Homo sapiens: one gene and its partners. The protein of the gene in region 5 purifies or fractionates together with the protein of the main gene of each other region. This does not show direct contact. Each region holds a gene or a part of one and is shown on either strand. Other genes may lie near its edges.

Region 1 (3,520 bases), on a different chromosome or scaffold from region 5:
TAAAAGTGAAAATAGTATCTTGGTATTTGGACCCCATGCTCAATCACCTCATATGGAATTTGTCCTTTGGAAAACACTGGTAAATATATTTTTAAATCTTGTAAATTTTTATTTTAGTGTATATTGTAAAAGCAATTCTGAATTCTTTGAGAGATTGATATAACCCATGAATTTAAAAAACATTCTAGGGCCAGGCACAGTGGCTCACACCAGTAATCCCAGCACTTTGGGAGGCCTAGGTGGGAGGGTCACTTGAGCTCAGGAGTTCAAGACCAGCCTGGGCAACAAAGTAAGACCTTATCTCTACAAAAAATTTAAAAAATTAGCCAGGCATGGTGGCGTGTGCCTGTGGTTCCAGCTACTTGGAAGCTGAGGCAGGAGGATTGCTAGAGCCCAGGAGGTCGAGGCTGCAGTGAGCCTTTAGTCTGGGAGACAGAACTTGTCTCAAACAAAAAAAACAAAAACATTTTTTTTGTTTTTGTGGTAATAAATATTATTTACCATCTTCATTTTTTCCGTGTACAGTCCAGTAGTGTTAAGTACATTGTTGTGTAGCCAGTTTCCAGAACTGTTCATTTTGCAAAACTGAGACTCTGTACCCATGAATAATTTCCTATTCTCCTCCCATTCCCACAGCCTTTGGCAACTATCCTTCTACTCTTTTTTTCTATGAATTTGAGTACCTCCAATAAGTAGAATCATACAGTGGTTTGTCTTTTTTCATGACTCGATTATTTCACCTGGCATGATGTCCTGGAGATTCATCCATGTTGTAACATGCGTCAACATTTCCTTCTTCTATAAGGCTGAATAATACTTTATTGAATATATAATTCACATTTTGTTTATTCATTGATCAGTGGGTTAGGTTGCTCTTAACTCTTGGCTATTGTGAATAATGCTGCTAACATTGTAAAATATTTTTATTTCAGTTGCTACTTTTTGTTTTGCATTGTTTTATCTTTTTCTTCTTTTCAGTTGCTACTTTTGAGTCTCAAAGATTAACATGCCCTTTTAATTATGACAGGAAGCATGGTCTAGTTGTTAAGAGGGATTTGCTTGGCTGTTGGACTTTTTGGATTCCAATCCTGGCTTATCTCTTCCTCATTATTTCCCTGAGGGCAAATAATGTTTTTGGCTTTGTTTGTTCAGCTGCCAAATAGAGACATATTGTTAGGATTGAGATAATGTATGTAAAGTGCTTGGAATAGTGTGTAGCACATAGTAAAAGTGCAGTGAAAGGATTGTTTGTTCAGGTACCCATTCAAAAGTGATGCAGGCAATCTCCCAATTAGATAATACAAATTTGAGTTTCTAAACTCATTTGACACTGGGAAGGCAAAAATCTGGATTGAACAATACCAATCTATTTTGTGGGTGGGATTGAGAGGGCAAGGATGGGTACAAAAGAGACAGGACTGAATGTTAGGATAGGGTCCCGATATCTTAACCAGTTGTACACTGTGGTTTATCTAACCAGACAAGGAGCCTGAAAACCAGAAGCTGGTCTCTGTTATAGCCATCTCTTCTTATTTTTATTCCATGCCAGCAACTTGCAAAATCATGAAAAGTGGTAGACAGCAATTTAAACAGACAAACCAGGTTATACAGTGGCATGGCACAGGTTTGTAAAGTTTGATCAGTTGTGACTTAGTATATGAGAAGGTTGGGCTTCTGGTTGCTCCTCGAGAATGATGTGAACTCAGAGGTGACTTTTTAATATGTCAAATGCTTAAATTTGTAAATTGAATACTTAACATCTAGAGGACCACATGTAGCCTGATCAAGATTTTTGTCTTAAATCCAATAAGATAGCCCACATCAATAGGATACTGCATAATTGGTCCTGACCATAAGTTTCCTACACCACTGTACTATGGATGCCACAAGGTATGATGCTTCTGAATATAACTGTACTACATTGAGTGATTCAAATTTAATTCTAGTAAAATATAAGAATAGTATAAAATATTATGTTCAACACTGTTTTCCTTATGTATAATCTTATTTGAGTCATATTCAGTAGTAGTATGCTATTTAACATTGTAACCAGTAAAAATGTACTGTGGCCCACAACTGTTGAAATCTTGTCTATTTCCTTAGAGAAATGACTACACCCACAGAGCATAGTGAGTAGGGGAATATTTTTGTCATAATGAATTCAGTTTAAAATTTATGGCCATGTAATCTAAAGACAGAAACATCTAAACTTTTCCCATTTACTCTCCCTAGCAGTTAATCTATTAGCTTGGCAAATATTTATTGCATAAACAAAAAATAGTAATTGATTGAAGGGACATCTCTTTCAACCTGTTTTACATTTCATGCTCTTCTGTTGTTTCACAATAGCTTAATAATGATTTCGAATTAACATGTCTATTAAAACAATCCTAAATTCAATGTAGGATTTAGGGTGCCATCTTAATAACATGAGCAATCACCATCTTATTTTAAATGACTATATTTCATATAGTTTGTAATGGTTTTACTAAAATTTAATACAGGATAGAGTCACCGAGATGCATTTTTACATAGACATTAGTTCTGGCGATTTTAGCAGCAGTGACTGGTTAGTTTGGTAGTAAAATGAGAGACTAGGGTTGAAATGATACATAAAGGTTAGTAGGGTTATTTTAGTTCTCAAAATGCTTAATTTAGGTATTGAGAAAGTTTGTCCAAGTAAAGATGTTTTAAGTAGATTTTTAACTTTTTCTTATTTTTCAGCCAAACCAAACAGGAAGCTTACTTTTCTCTACCTAGCCAATGATGTCATACAGAACAGCAAGAGGAAGGGGCCAGAGTTTACAAAAGATTTTGCACCAGTTATAGTGGAGGCTTTTAAGCATGTTTCAAGGTATGATCATAGTTTTGGGTATTAGGTAATCTGTTTTAAATGTACCATATGTCCTTTTGCTAAAATTTGCCTTAAACTATTAAAATAAAAAGTAGGGAATATAGTTTTTTGATGCTTTTATTTGAAAAGACTTCCCTCTACATGGCATTTATAAATGTATTAAATGCCTTCTCTGAAGGAAAAATATTTTTTGAACTGTTGCTAAGGTGGGCCTTTGGAGTACTTGAATTACAGCTTTCCTTTAAGAGACCAGAACCAACTGCTATATTGGAATGAACTTCATTAAAAATGAATGAAGGTATTGAAGTAAAAATTTGTGTGTTTATAAAGCTATCAGTCTTGTAACAAATATTTCCATATACACTTAGTACTGTTTCTATTCTTTTTTTTTTTTTTTTTTTTTTTTTTGAGACAGAGTCTCACTCTCACCCAGGCTGGAGTACAGTGGTGCGATCTTGGCTCACTGCAACCTCTGCCGCTTGGGTTCAAGCGATTCTCCTACTTCAGCCTCGCAAGTAGCTGGAATTACAGGTGCCTGCCACCATGCCTGGCTAATTTTTGTGTTTTTAGTAGAGACAAGGTTTCACCATCTTGGCCAGGCTGGTCTTGAACTCCTGACCTCGTGATCCACCTGCCTCGGCCTCCCAAAGTGCTGGGATTACAAAC
Region 2 (3,520 bases), on a different chromosome or scaffold from region 5:
CCAGCCTTTTGTTTTAGTCAGGGCTTAAGTTTTAGCAGACAAGGAACTTATAAATAAAGGCAGTGTTAGGGCTTCCTGTTGGTCCCTTCCCACTGTTTCCCTGAGGTTTAGTCAATTAAATTTTTAAAAAATTTTTAAACATTCTCAGTCATGAAACTCAAAGGCTCTGCTTTAGTATAGTTCAATTTAAATCTTTTTCAAACAATTTACTTCATTGTTTACAATTAACAGAGATAACTTGTATTCAAATATATATAATAATTAATTAATCAATGGTTTGGTGTTCAGTCATCTCTCTTTTGACATGGCATATATCACTGTGAGCAGGTGTTGACTATGAACAAGGAGAAAAAGCAGAATTTCAAATCATGACTCTCTCTGGGACCAAATAACAAGGAAATCAAAACTTAAATTCAATTGTAAAAAGTAAAAGTTCAGAATAAAAAGTAAGATGAAACTCAACTCAAAGGACAAAAGGGATACAACTTGGGGTCTAGCTTATATCAAGAGAAATCTCATGTTAGCTCTCCCTTCCCTCAATTTATTGCTGCTGTAAGGATATAATCACACTGCTATTATAAACATTCTTTCCCACCTTCCTCCACTACCCAAACCATTCCTAGTCACTCTTTTAAATATTAGCAGTGATTGTTTTGCAAAGCAATGCAGTATACAAATTTGGATTTATAGGGGAATTCTGAATATCACATCCTCTCCTCTAGAATCCTTCTTACATTTAAAAGATAGATACTCTCAAGCACCCCCTCACTGAGCACTGCCTCTACTGATTTAACTTCCTTATAAGCACACCCATATGTATGCAGGTATGGAACAGTGGCCAAATTCTTTCTGTGAACCTTGATATAATAATCATGTTTTACTCATTAAAAAATCAGTTCAATATTTTAAGCCCCTCAAGACAAAAATATATTAAAATGTACAATGAATATGTAATGAGAACATTTCATCATATTTTGGTTAAAAAAATCCTTAACCATCTTAAAAAAGCTACAACACATTCAAATTCAAAAGTAATTGTTTAAAATCAATTAATGCTATAAGATTAAGTATTAGACAAAAGTATTCTCATTACCTAAATAAGTCGATTCATATCTTATTAGAGTTCTTACCTATGGTAATTCTTGAAATAATTGACACTTTGTTTTCTAATAGATTCCTGTAAAACTTCAGACTTGCTACCACAAAATTCTTCTCCAACTTGCATCAACCTAGTTGGATAAAAAGGTTTCAGTAAATTTCAGCAGCAGCCTTATAGAGAAAAAGAAGTGTGGTTTCTCTTTCTTCAAAGATAAAAAAAATCACTAAAATTTGGACATGTGAAAAAATTCTAAAGATCACAAATCCATAAAGGTTTACAAACACCCAAAGGGCAGAAATATTTAAATACACTCACAAACTTAGCAGCAAAAATTATCTTCATTTCCATAAAGAAGTTATAGATGATAACTCACTAGCTCATGATTTATCATGGTTGAATGACTCAAACTAAAGAATAAGACAAGATCTTAAATACTACCTGCTGATTATATCCAAAACAAAGATGAAATCATCATATTTGAATATAGACAAATCAGTTCCAAGCAAGTAGGTTTTTACTTTTAGCTGAACATCCTGTAAGGCAAAGAAAAAGAAAATCAAGCAAACCCAAAATATAGAAAATAAGTTATCAGAAGCATTTACTCTATAGTTCCAGATTAAAATGAGACAGGAATATATTCCTAATTTGTTAACGAATATCTATTTAGGCCAATAGCCAACATCCTTAAGGGATGTAATAGAGACAATCCCATTTCCTATACCAGGAATGCCATCAGGTTGCCAAACTGAATGGAAAGTAGCTACATAAAGTGCTAAGTCAGTATTTCAAAGTACACTGAATTACCAGAAATTCTATCATAGATTGTAAAATTTTACCAAAGTACACTTAAGGCCTATTGGGAGACTAAGTCAGAAACAAATCATATCTGATCCTGGGTGTATATTCAATAACTATAAGATTTTCCTTTCTTTTTATGCATAATACTCAGAAAACAGTCAGCCTAAATCCACAATTAATGATAAATTAAATATTTAATTTTAATAAATGTTTAATATGGTTATGAGTTTAATATAGACAAATGAGAAAATATATGTCAAACCTCTTACAACCACAAAAATAAATTTTAAATACTAAAGCATAAAATCAAATAGCATATCGAATACAAAATTATCAAAAATTAGAAGAGCACTAAATTATAAATATTAACTGATTCATGAAGAAATTTATGTTTTCAAAATATATTTTCCTAAACAATTTTTTTCAAAACATATCCTATAAAAGATGGTCAAGCTGGGCATGGTGGCTGATGCCTGTAATCCCAGCACTTTGGGAGGCCAAGGCAGGAATATCACTTGGGCCCAGGAGTTCAAGACCAGTCTGGGCAACATAGCAAGACCCCATATCCACCAATAATAATTTAAGAAAATTAGGCATGGTGGTGCACATCTGTGGTCCCAGCTACTCAGGAGGCTGAGGCAGAAGGATCACCTGAGCCCAAGAGGTCGAGGCTGCACTGGGCCATGACTCTGCCACCACACTCCAGCCTGGGTGACAGAGTGAGACCCTGTCTCAATCAATCAATCAATCAATCAAAAGAAAGAAAGAAAAAAAAAGATGGTCAAAATAAAGATCAGCCTCATTAGAAAAATCAAAAATACATTTTAAAAGACCATAACATGGCCAAAGGGTCTATAGTCTTCCAAGGTTCAAAGAAGTCCAAAAAGAGTAAGTTATCTTCAAAGAAATTACACTGTGATCTAAGAAGTAACAAATTATCTGATTACAACAACTGAGTTACTAAATTGTAAAGAAAAACTTAATAAGATACTGCTATGGTCTGAATGTTCATGTCTACCCAAAATTCCGAAGCTGAAATTCTAACCTCCAAGGTGATAATATATTAGAAGGTGGGGCCTTTGTGAGATGATTAAATCGTGAAGGTAGAGCCCTCATTAATTAGATTAGTTCCCCTATAGAAGGGACCCCAGAGAGCTCCTTCATCCCTTCCACTATTTGAGGATACAGCAAGACAATGTCTATGAACCAGGAAGCAGGCCCTCCCTCCCAACAATGCTGGCACCCTGATCTCTGACTTCCAGCCTTTAGAATTCTAAGAAATAAACTTCTCTGTTTATAAACTATGCAGTCTAGAATATTTTGTTATAGGAGCCCAAATGGACTAAAACCAGATATATTCAGCCAATAAGCATGTAAGATTCCCTCAAGGTACAAAGATCATTGACTGAGAAAAAAAGAATTATTCATTCTAAACTATAATCTGACCTAAGTATGCTATCTACTTAGTTACTCCTTTTCTAAAATTAACAGAAAAAAAAATTAAGAAAACACAGATAAATGAAATAATAAACAGAACATCTCACTGAGAAAGCATACATTTCTCTATGATAGTGGAAATTTGCTAGGCCTCTAAAACAAAAGATGTACTCAAGACATGTATGA
Region 3 (3,520 bases), on a different chromosome or scaffold from region 5:
ACAAAGTAAGACCTGGGTTCGAAGCTTGGCCTTGCCATGTGCTAGTTATGTGAACTTGTACAACTTTCAAGCCCTAGTTTTCTTTATAATGGAGCTAATAATGGTTAGGGTAGCCAGCATCTTTGCACGAGGTCCTACTGTGAGATAATATATGTGAAAGTGCTTGGCCCAAAATACCACTGACAGATGAAGTCTGAGCTTGGTGTCCCGTGACCCCCGCCCCCCTGCCCACAACACACACACTGCTTGCCAGCTGTCTTCTTAGCTGTTCTTCTGTTATACCTCCAGGTCCTTCCTGCATATTGGATCCACCATCTTCTTAGGGTGGTCTTCCAGTCTCTGCTTCTTAAGTTAACTTTTAGGCACTTGACTTGACTCCTGGTATTACCAAGGATTCTACTTCTTGGTTTTGAAAGGTTATCAGTCCAGTATAGGCTTAAATATTACTCAAAGAACTTTCATATACATTGTCTCATCTCACCTTCACAACATTATAGTGACAAGATCCAGGCTCCTCAGCGTTCGTTTTATAAGTATGGCCCCCAGGCTACAATCCTGGGCTCATGGCTTCCAATTCTTTTCACATCAACAACTACCAGAAATCAAAAGCTGTGCTCTGCATCATAAAGCCCCAGCTATTTTTGAGGCACTTATGAAAATTCTCCCTTTTCTTTGAGAAGAATGGATTATAAAATGGATCTGTGAGAAGAAATTTGGATGTGTTCTCACGAGATGAGTCCTGGGCAGCAGGACTTATAAGAAAAGCAGCTTAAACAAGACAGTTAAAACTGACAGCAGTATTAAATGGTGCACCATACCCAGCCCTTTCCAGTCACTTTCAAATTTGGAAGGTCCAAAAATGAACCATTTAGCCTGCAGTTGTTTGTCAGGATCAAGCTAAAAAGGAAGCCTAAGTGAGCCTCCATAGGTCGCAAGAGAGTACAGACATCCAGAAGCACTAAGGAAAATTCAGATAAAGCAGCAGTTCTACAAATGTCATCTGCAGTCTTTTTCCAGAAAGAGAGGGGGCACAAGATCCTTTTAAGGGTCTGCAAGGTTAAAGCTATTTTCTTAATAACATTAAAACGTTAATTTTTTCCCTGTATTGATAATGTGCACTATTCATACTAAAAGCACGGTTGGGTAAAATTGCTGGCATTTTACAAAAATCAGACAAGTGGCACCAAACTATACTAGTAGTCATTGTATTCTTCACCACCACACACTCACAGTAAAAAAATAGTTTAAAGCCAGTTTCATTTAAGATTGTCCATCATGGCTAGGTGCAGTGGCTCACCCCTGTAATCTCAGCACTCTGGGAAGCTGAGGCAGGCAAACTGCTTGAGTCCAGCAGTTCCAGGCAAGTCTGGGCAACATAGAGAAATCCCATCTCTACTAAAAAATACAAAAAAAATTATCCAGGTGTGGTGGTGTACCTGTAATCCCAGCTACTCCGGGGACTGAGGTGGGAGAATCACCTGAGCCCAGGAGGTTGAGGCTGCAGTGAGCTGAGATTGTGCCACTGTACTCCAGCCTGGGCAACCAGAGTGAGACCCTATCAAGGAGGGAAGGAGGAAAGGAAGGAAGGGAGTGAGGGAGGGAGGGAAAATGTCCATCATTACTTTTATAAAATTCTCAAGCACACATCTTTTTAATGCTCTGTGACAAAATGAGAAGTACACAGAACTTGTGCTGCATACCAAAGTATGATGTTTGTCTCAAAAACTACTTGTGTGATTAAGTTGTGAGTTGAACTAGCTACTATTTTCATTGGACACCATTTTTATTGTATATGGTCATTCGGTTTTGGGTATTTAGAATACTTTTTTTTTGGAAATGAATGAAGTGAACCTGTCACTTTAAGGAAAATGACTGACATTTGTTGCCAATGATAAAATCTGAGCTTTCAAGCAAAAATTGGAATTTTTAGAAAACTTGTCTCTGCTACTTTGACCTTGAGATCTTCCTAAAACTTAAAAAATGTTGTTGATGAGATAGGGAGTATTAATAATAGTGATATTTTGATGCTCTATAATGAAATGTGTCAATATATAGAAGATCTGCATAACTCAGTGAACCAATATTTTGTAACTAAACAATGCAAGGTATTTCAAAATCATGTAAGGGTAAAAGATCCATCCTAAGTGCCAAGATATAAAGAGTACAAAACATTCATTGATATGGTTTCAGATTCCACATTGCAACTCACCTTTAAGAAACTTCTACGTGTCAAGTTTTGAAGTGGTATCAAAAAAGAATACAATTATTTGAAAAGTCTATTAAAATATGCCTCCCTTTTCCAACTACTTATCTGTGGGAGGTTGGATTTCCTTCATATACTTGAATCACAAGACGTATCTAAATAGACTGAATGGAAAAACATATATGAGAATCCAGTTGAAAATTATTAAGCCAGACATTAGATTTGCAAAAATGTAAGATAATACTCTGCCTGGTAATTTTTTGTTACTGTTTTAGAAAATAGTTATTTTTCATTAAAATACTATTCATTATTTATGTTAACATGTAGCGGGTTTATTACATTTAAGAAATCTATTAGTTTTAATTTCAAATACAGTAAATATTGATAAATACAGCCTACATAAGCAAAAGTTCTTTGGAGTCCTCAATGATTTTTTTAAGAGTGTAAAAGGGTCCCTAGACCAAAACGTTGCTGTGGAAATAAAGTAAGTTATAATGCCACCTGCTGGCAAAGCCTGAAATCATTGCTGCTCCTGAAAGCAGCAGCTACCAAACTGTTTCCTCACGTATATCCAGATAGGTCTCAAAGAATGCTCTTCTTTGAGACTCAGCCAGGGGAAGGCAGCTGGGGTGAGTGGGGGAGATTTTGAGACAGAGTTCTCTTACTGAGTAGTAGTAATAATCCTCCCCAGTAGCCTGTCTTAACTTAAACCACAGGTTACTGAAGTTGGCACCTGTAGTATAAGAGATTTACTTCTGTTTTCTTCATTTGACTCCTTGAGCTGTGTCTCTTCACAGCTTGTTAACTCCACTTTTTCTTCTTCAGAAATATCTGTCACTATAAGATGTTTTATTCCCTTATAGGGGAAACGTCTAGCTGGGCTCATTGAAGTTTAGGCATTGGTCCTAAAGAAATATGTGGGCATCATGATTCCAGGCAGTTGAATGCTCTTGGGATTTTATTCAGCCTTTAAGTTGCCTCTGTGGGCTCACTAAAATGGAGAGAAAAGAATAGTTCGGGGGAGAGGTTTTTTCTTACTCTGACCATGTCTGTCTAACAGTTCCTTGTTTGAAATCATCCAATAGAAAACTGAAGCCATTTGAAGCTTCTCCCCACCCCACCCCATGCTTCATTTTCCTTTTGGCATTGCTCATAATACTGATTCAAACTTCACACTTCCCTCCTTTTGTTTGTAGATTTTAAATGGAGGGACTCCAGACATTCCTTCCAGTGGCCTACTATCAGGCCAGGCTCAGGAGAACCCAGGTTATCCATATTCTGATAGTTCTTCTATTCTTGGTAAGTGGCATCATTATT
Region 4 (3,520 bases), on a different chromosome or scaffold from region 5:
TGGCTATCATTTATAATGCTGCTACGAACTTTGGTGTACAAGTTTTTGTGTGGAAATATATTTTCATTTCTCTTGGAGAGGAATACCTAGGAGTGGGATTGCTGGGTCAGAATATTTGCATTTTAAAGGAGGATTCATCTGTAGCCATTGCTGCTTACTCCAGAGGACTGAATGTATTCTAAAATGTGGAAGTCCTGGTTCTGTGACATCTGAGTGTGGGGAAAAACTGCTGGGCAGAGGAGCCTTTCAAGTTTGGTGGCTGCCTGTTCCTTCTACTCATGAAACTTGTCCTAAACTCAGCCCATAAATTTCTCCTCACACCATCCCATCTCTCCCATTTATTGCCAGGTTCTTACTTTCAGGAGCACTGCATTTTTCTGATGTCACCAAGGCTGCCAGGAATTTGGGGAATGCTGGGCTTTGCCAGAGAAGGAGGGATCTCCTCTGAGCGAGGAGAGTTACCTCATCATCAGGCATTTGGCACTAACATTTGCCCATAGTTCTCCAGGGTGGAGGGGGGCGTGCACCCAGATGGTTTCAGTTCCAGACACGTGTGCTCAGAGAGGTGGGATGAGCTTCCTTGCCTGCTAGTAATTATGGTGCATGCCTCTTTGGGTCAAGGTGCAGAGGCTTGTGAAATACCTTTGTTTTCTAGGGGTTGGGAAGGTTCAGTTGCGGAAATAGGTATGTGCCAGGAAGGCTGGTGGCCCAGATTTAAGCCTGGCCAGCAGAGGCAGGAAGTGGAGGAGACAATATAGGGTAAGAAGGGGATGAGTCGATGAAGGAAGAAAAGAGACGTGGTTTTCTTGGGTCTGGGAGCACAGAAGCAAAAATCACTAAGCAGGTAGTCAGAGACTAGAGAGGGCAGAGCCACTCCCTTTGATGCAGAGGGGGCACTGAGGAACTTGCCCTTTCATTCCAGGTTTGCTGGTCGCTAGGCAGGTGTCCTAGAGTGAGACTGGCTTAGCAAGTGGGTGTCTCCTTCAGAGTTGGTTCAGGAGCTCACTTCCCTCTACAGACACACTGTCACTGCTAGGCCCTAGTGTTTTCCTTTGTTAGGGCTCCAAGTAATGAGAAAGGCTGCCCCATGTAGGGTGCCACCTCAAATCCTTTTTCTCATTTCACCTCACAGTAACCCTGGTGAGCCCTCTACATAGTGCCTGTCCAGCCCATGCCTCTGGGTAGGCAGCCACATAAAAATCAAACACCTGTTTTGTTGGCTAATCTGGGGAGGAAGAAAGGGAGTGATTCTTTGTGTCATACTCCACAAAGGGCCATCTCTGGCCTAGGCAGCACTGCAGAAGGCAGGACCATGTACCTGAGACTGATGAGCTGAGTCGGGTGCGAGCCTCACTCAAGGAGAGGGTAGAGAGGGTAGGTACCCACCTATCCCATCCGGCTCTGTTCTTTGAGTTTATGGGACTTCCTTCATCCTGATCACTTGGGTGCCATTGTTACAAGGGGCTGGCTATTCCTACTTTTCTTTTTTCTTTTTCTTTTCTTTTTTTTTTTTTTTTGAGACGGAGTCTTGCTCTGTCACCAGGCTGGAGTACAGTGGCCCAATCTTGGCTCACTGCAGCCTCCACCTCCCAGGTTCAAGTGATTCTCCTGCCTCAGCCTCCCAAGTAGCTGGAGCTACAGGCGTGCGCCACCACGCCCAGCTAATTTTTGTATTTTTAGTAGAGATGGGGTTTCATCCTGTTGGCCAGGATGATCTCAATCTCTTAACCTCGTGATTCGCCTGCCTTGGCCTCCCAAAGTGCTGGGATTACAGGCTTGAGCCTCCGTGCCCAGCCTCCCATTTTTCAAAGTGGGGAAACTGAAGTGACTGCTCCTCCAGCAGCTTGAGAGGCCATGTACACTTGGGGTGGGAAAGTGGGTGGGATTGAGGGGCAAAGTGAGGGAAGAGTGGGATACAGGGTGAAGATGAATTAAGGTTGCTGGTTTCCAGCTCAGGGGCAATCTCCACTTCCTTTACTTCCTCTTAGAAAGAACCTTACACTTGACTCCTACCCAGTCCTAGTGACCCCTGTAAAACCTGGGGAGTGAGAGCTGGGGGAACGCAGGCTTTTCCCTATTCACATGAGCCTGTGGTGTGAGAACTCTGCACCTCTCTCCTTATTTCCCTGGGGCCTCCCTGTTTATCTCCTTATCTCTGCTGTGGCGTCTTGATCTCTAACCCCTCAGCTATGTGTTTACCCCCTCCCTGCTTTGAGGAGTGAGTCAGGGTTGGAGATTTGTTTGAACAGAGTGGTGAGGCTGCCTATAATTTGGAGGTAGCTGGGCTTCTCCCAAAAATGTTTATGAGGTTAGAGGCTGCTTACCTTGTGATTAGTACTGCTCCTTTTTCCCTAGAGAAGAAGGCTCCACTTCTCATCTTGCCTTTTAGAGTACCCAGTAGAGACCCCCCTGCCGGATATTTTTGGGGTGTTCCTAAAGCTCCCTGGAGCCTGCTCATAGTCCTGAGGAAATGCAAGCCTGCTCTAGAAAACAACTAAGTGCACCAGGCAGAGAGGAGCCCCAGGATTTGCTCCTTGACTCTGGGTTGGGGGTGCAGGCCGAGGTCTGTGGCCTTGCTGACTAAGATGCATTCTCCAGTTCTGGAGGATGAGGTGCCAGAGAGAGCCCTAAGTTTTTCATCAGCTCCATTAGACAATTTACCTCATCCACCCTCTTCCCTTGCAGACTTTCCAGAGCTACTTGGGAAAGTAATGCTGCTTCACCCTTGTGAAGAGATGTATGGTTTGCAAATCACTTTTACATCATTCTTGCACATCTATCTACTCTTCCTAAAATGTCGGTTGTGAAATTATCACCCTCATTTTACAGACAGAAAACTGAGGCCCAGAGAGATTAAGTGATTTGCTCAAGGATTAATGGTCATCAATCAGGACTCAGACATCCTGCCTCTGACTTCAAGTTTAGTACTTTGTTTTGAAACAGAGTCTCGCTCTGTCACCTGGGTTGGAGTGCATGGCACAGTCTTGGCTCACTGCCGCCTTGACCTTATGAGCTCAATTGATCCTCTCACCTCAGCTTCCCTAGTAGCTGGGACTGCAGGTGTGCACCACCACACCAGGCTAATTTTTGTACTTTTTGTAGAGACAGGGTCTCATTATGTTGCCCAGGCTGGTCTCAAACTCCTGGACTCAGGTGATCTGCCCTCCTGGGCCTCCCAAAGTGCTGGGATTACAGGCGTGAGCCAACATGCCTAGCCAAGTTTAGTACTTTTTCTTTCCTTCTCTTTATATGTTTTATTATAGGAGTGTCACAGGGCTCACTGCACCTCTCTCCTTATCTCCCTGGGGCCTCTGCCTCCCAGGTTCAAGCGATTCTCCTGCCTCAGCCTCCCAGGCAACTGGGATTACAGGTGCCCACCACCACACCTGGCCAGTGTTTTGTATTTTTAGTAGAGACGGGGTTTCACCATGTTGGCCAGGCTGGCCTTGAACTCCTGACCTCTGGTGATCCACCTGCTTTGGCCTCCCAAAGTTCTGGGATTATAGGCGTGAGCCACTGT
Region 5 (3,520 bases):
GCCCACTCCGCTGCCACCCCTACTTCTTCCTGCCTCTTTTCTGTCCACAGCTCCCTGCAGGTGCCTCCCCCACGGCCTCTGTTTCCCCATATATCTTATTGGTCAGTGAGGAGGGAGGGGCTAACAGCAGAGTCCCCGAACTGGGGTCTCCAGAACTTCCACTCTGATTTTCTGTATGGGGCCGGTGGGGGATAGGGAAGGTTGGCCAAGGGTTATTCCTATGACTCCAGCTTTATTATTGTTATTTTTTTTCTGTGTAACACCCACCCCTGCCCTGGCGAAATGGGAACATGTGCACCCAGGAGTAGATTTTAAAAGCAACCAAACAGCATATTTTAATAAGGTCTCCCCTTCTCAGAAGTAACGCAGCTACTTGTGTTTTGAGAATCCTTCTAGACTTCCTTAAAACTGCGGGGGTGGTGGGGGGGCAGCTCATTTATAGTTAAAACAGGCGCCCAGCATGGTGGCTCATGCCTGTAATCCCAGCACTTTGGGAGGCCAAGGCAAGCGGATGACCTGAGGTCAGGAGTTCGAGACCAGCCTGGCCAATATGGTGAAACCCCATCTCTACTAAAAATACAAAAATTAGCCAGGCATGGTGATGCAGGGCTGAGGCACGAGAATTACTTGAACCTGAGAAGGCAGAGGTTGCAGTGAGCCGAGATTATGCCACTGTACTCCAGCCTAGGCGACAGAGTGAGACTTTGTCTCAAAAAACAAACAAAAAAAATCCCTAATCCAAAATGCTCAAAAATCTGAAACTCTTTGAGTGCCTACATGATACTCCAAGGAAATGCACATTGGAGCAGTTTGGGTTTCAGAGTTTTAGGTTAGGGATGCTCAACCCAAATATTCCAAAATCTGAAAAAAAATCCCAAATCTGAAACCCTTCTGGTCCCAAGTATTTTGGAGAAGGGATATTCAACCTGTCCTTCTGAAAAATGTGTATATTAGCTACTAGTTGGCTTTTCTTTTTAAAAATGATATATTTGGGACATATTTATGGGGTACATATGCTATTACATGCATAGAATGTGTAATAAGTCAGGGTATTGGGGTATCTATCACCTCAAGTATTTATCATTTCTGTGTGTTGAGAACATTTCAAGTCCTCTTCTAGCTTTTTTTTTTTGACAGAGTCTCACTCTGTTGCCCAGGCTAGAGTGCAATGGTGGGATCACAGCTCACTGCAGCCTCAACCTCCCAGGCTCAGGTGATCCTCCTTGAGTAGCTGGGACCACAGGCATGCACCACACACCACCATACACAGCTGATTTTTGAAGTTATTTTTGTAGAGTTGGGGTCTTCCTTTTGCCCAAGCTGGTCTTGAACCCTTAGGCTCAAATGGTCCTCTTGTTTTAGCCTCCCAAATTGCTGGGATTACAGGCATGAGCCACCGCGCATGGGTCCAATTTGTAGAGATAGGGTCTCACTGGCTTTTATTTTATTTATTTATTTATTTATTTATTTATTTATTTATTCTGAGACAGAGTTTCACTCTTATTGCCAGGCTGGAGTGCAATGGTGCGATCTCAACTCACTGCAACCTCCGCCTCCTGGGTTCAAGCGATTCTCCAGCCTCAGCCTCCTGAGTAGCTGGGATTACAGGCATGCGCCACCAAGCCTGGCTAATTTTTGTATTTTTAGTAGAGATGGGGTTTTGCCATGTTGGCCAGGCTGGTCTCGAACTCCTGACCTCAGGTGATCTGCCCACCTTGGCCTCCCAAAGTGCTGGGATTACAGGTGTGAGCCACTGTGCCTGGCCCACTGGTTTTTATTTTTTAACTTAACTCTATCTTGGAGATTGTTTTACATTGATACATTTACAGTTGCCTCATTTTTAATGACTTTACAATAATAATAATAATAACATTAACAATAGCAATAATAATAACAATGGTTTTATTGAGTCATTATAGTGTGCAAGGCATGGTTACAAATGCTTCATGCTGATTGGCTTACTGATTTGTCTTTGCAACAAATCTGTGAGCTAGGTTCTTGTTTCCATGTTATAGGCAAAAACACCAAGAGAGGTTAAGTTGTTTAACCAGCTAGTATGTGGCAGAGCTGGGATTTGAACCCAGGTACTCTGTTTTCAGAACTTAGGTTCTTTTTTCCTTTTTTTTTTTTTTTTTTTGAGATAGGGTCTGGCTCTGTCACCCAGGCCAGAGTGCAGTGACACGATCTGCCTCCCAGGCTCAAGCCATCCTGCAGTTTAAGCAATACTGTTAAGAATACCAGTGTGTGGGCTGGGCTTGGTGGCTCATGCCTGTAACCCCAGCATTTTGGGAGGCTGAGGCAGATGGATCACCTGAGGTCAGGAGTTCCAGACCTGGGCGACAGAGTGAGACTTTGTCTTAAAAATAAATAAATAATAACAGTGTGCGTCAGCTCATGCCTGTAATCCAGCACTTTGAGAGGCCGAGGTGGGTGGATCCCTTGAGGACAGGAGTTCAAGACCAGCCTGGCCAACTTGGTGAAACCCCATCTCTACTAAAAATACAAAAAATTGGCTGGGCGCGGTGGCTCACACCTGTAATCCCAGCACTTTGGGAGGCGGAGACAGGCGGAGCACGAGGTCAGGAGTTCGAGACCAGCCTGGCCAACATGGTGAAACCCCGTCTCTACTAAAAATACAAAAATTAGCCGGGTGTGGTGCATGCCTGTAGTCACAGCTACTTGGGAGGCTGAGACAGAAGAATCGCTTGAACCCGGAAGGCGGAGGTTGCAGTGAGCCGAGATCATGCCACTGCTCTCCAGCCTGGGTGACAGAGCGAGACTCTGTCTCAAAAAAAAAAAAAACAAAAAAAAAAAAACGGCCAGGTGCAGTGGCTCACGCTGGTAATCCTAGCACTTTGGGAGGCAGAGGCAGGCAGGTCATAAGGTCAGGAGATCGAGACCAGCCTGGCTAACATGGTGAAACCCTGTCTCTACTAAAAATACAACAAATTAGCCTAGTCCCAGCTACTCAGGAGGCTTTGGCAGGAGAATTGCTTGAACCTGGGAGGCGGAGGTTGCAGTGAGCTGAGATCATGCCACTGCACTCCAGCCTGGGCAACAGAGCGAGACCTTGTCTCAAAAAAAAAAAAAAAATTAGCTGGGTGTGCTGGTGCGTGCCTATAATCCCAGTTACTCGGGAGGCTGAGGCAGGAGAATAGTTTGAACCCAGGAGATGGAGGTTTCGGTGAGCTAAGGTCGCACCACTGCATGACAGCCTGGGCAACAGAGCGAGACTCCATCTTAAAAAAAAAAAATCTTGTTATTTATTAATCAATATTAATAACACTAATTTTAAAGCACTTAATATAGGTCAGGGTCTGTTCTAAACCATTTTATCACTTTGAATCTTATGGAATTGCTAATATTTGGAGGCAAGAAACAGTCGTATACTGGCAATTCCCCTGGCTCAACCTAATATATAAAATTTCATTTTTTCTTGGGAAGAACCCTCACAAGCAGGTTCCGTTATTATTTGGGTGAAGGGTTAGCAGATGTTCTTCTGTATGGGAAATTAACTTTC

What was found.
Region 1: the proteins of PHLDB3 (region 5) and RPRD1A purify together in Homo sapiens (affinity purification with mass spectrometry, with the first as the bait; one large-scale study listed by BioGRID). This does not show direct contact.
Region 2: the proteins of PHLDB3 (region 5) and VPS50 purify together in Homo sapiens (affinity purification with mass spectrometry, with the first as the bait; one large-scale study listed by BioGRID). This does not show direct contact.
Region 3: the proteins of PHLDB3 (region 5) and BMAL1 purify together in Homo sapiens (affinity purification with mass spectrometry, with the first as the bait; one large-scale study listed by BioGRID). This does not show direct contact.
Region 4: the proteins of PHLDB3 (region 5) and TUFT1 purify together in Homo sapiens (affinity purification with mass spectrometry, with the first as the bait; one large-scale study listed by BioGRID). This does not show direct contact.

The regions. Positions count from the first base shown.
Region 1 is NC_000018.10:36,033,042-36,036,561, reverse strand, and holds part of RPRD1A (regulation of nuclear pre-mRNA domain-containing protein 1A), read left to right. Parts: intron 1-2,724; coding exon 2,725-2,854; intron 2,855-3,520. UniProt on the Homo sapiens protein: Interacts with phosphorylated C-terminal heptapeptide repeat domain (CTD) of the largest RNA polymerase II subunit POLR2A, and participates in dephosphorylation of the CTD by RPAP2.
Region 2 is NC_000007.14:93,294,854-93,298,373, reverse strand, and holds part of VPS50 (syndetin), read right to left. Parts: intron 1,633-3,520; coding exon 1,538-1,632; intron 1,230-1,537; coding exon 1,131-1,229; intron 1-1,130.
Region 3 is NC_000011.10:13,382,290-13,385,809, forward strand, and holds part of BMAL1 (basic helix-loop-helix ARNT-like protein 1), read left to right. Parts: intron 1-2,190; exon of another isoform or gene 2,191-2,435; intron 2,436-3,399; coding exon 3,400-3,502; intron 3,503-3,520. UniProt on the Homo sapiens protein: Transcriptional activator which forms a core component of the circadian clock.
Region 4 is NC_000001.11:151,546,805-151,550,324, forward strand, and holds part of TUFT1 (tuftelin), read left to right. Parts: intron 1-3,520. UniProt on the Homo sapiens protein: Involved in the structural organization of the epidermis. Involved in the mineralization and structural organization of enamel.
Region 5 is NC_000019.10:43,491,242-43,494,761, reverse strand, and holds part of PHLDB3 (pleckstrin homology-like domain family B member 3), read left to right. Parts: coding exon 1-60; intron 61-3,520.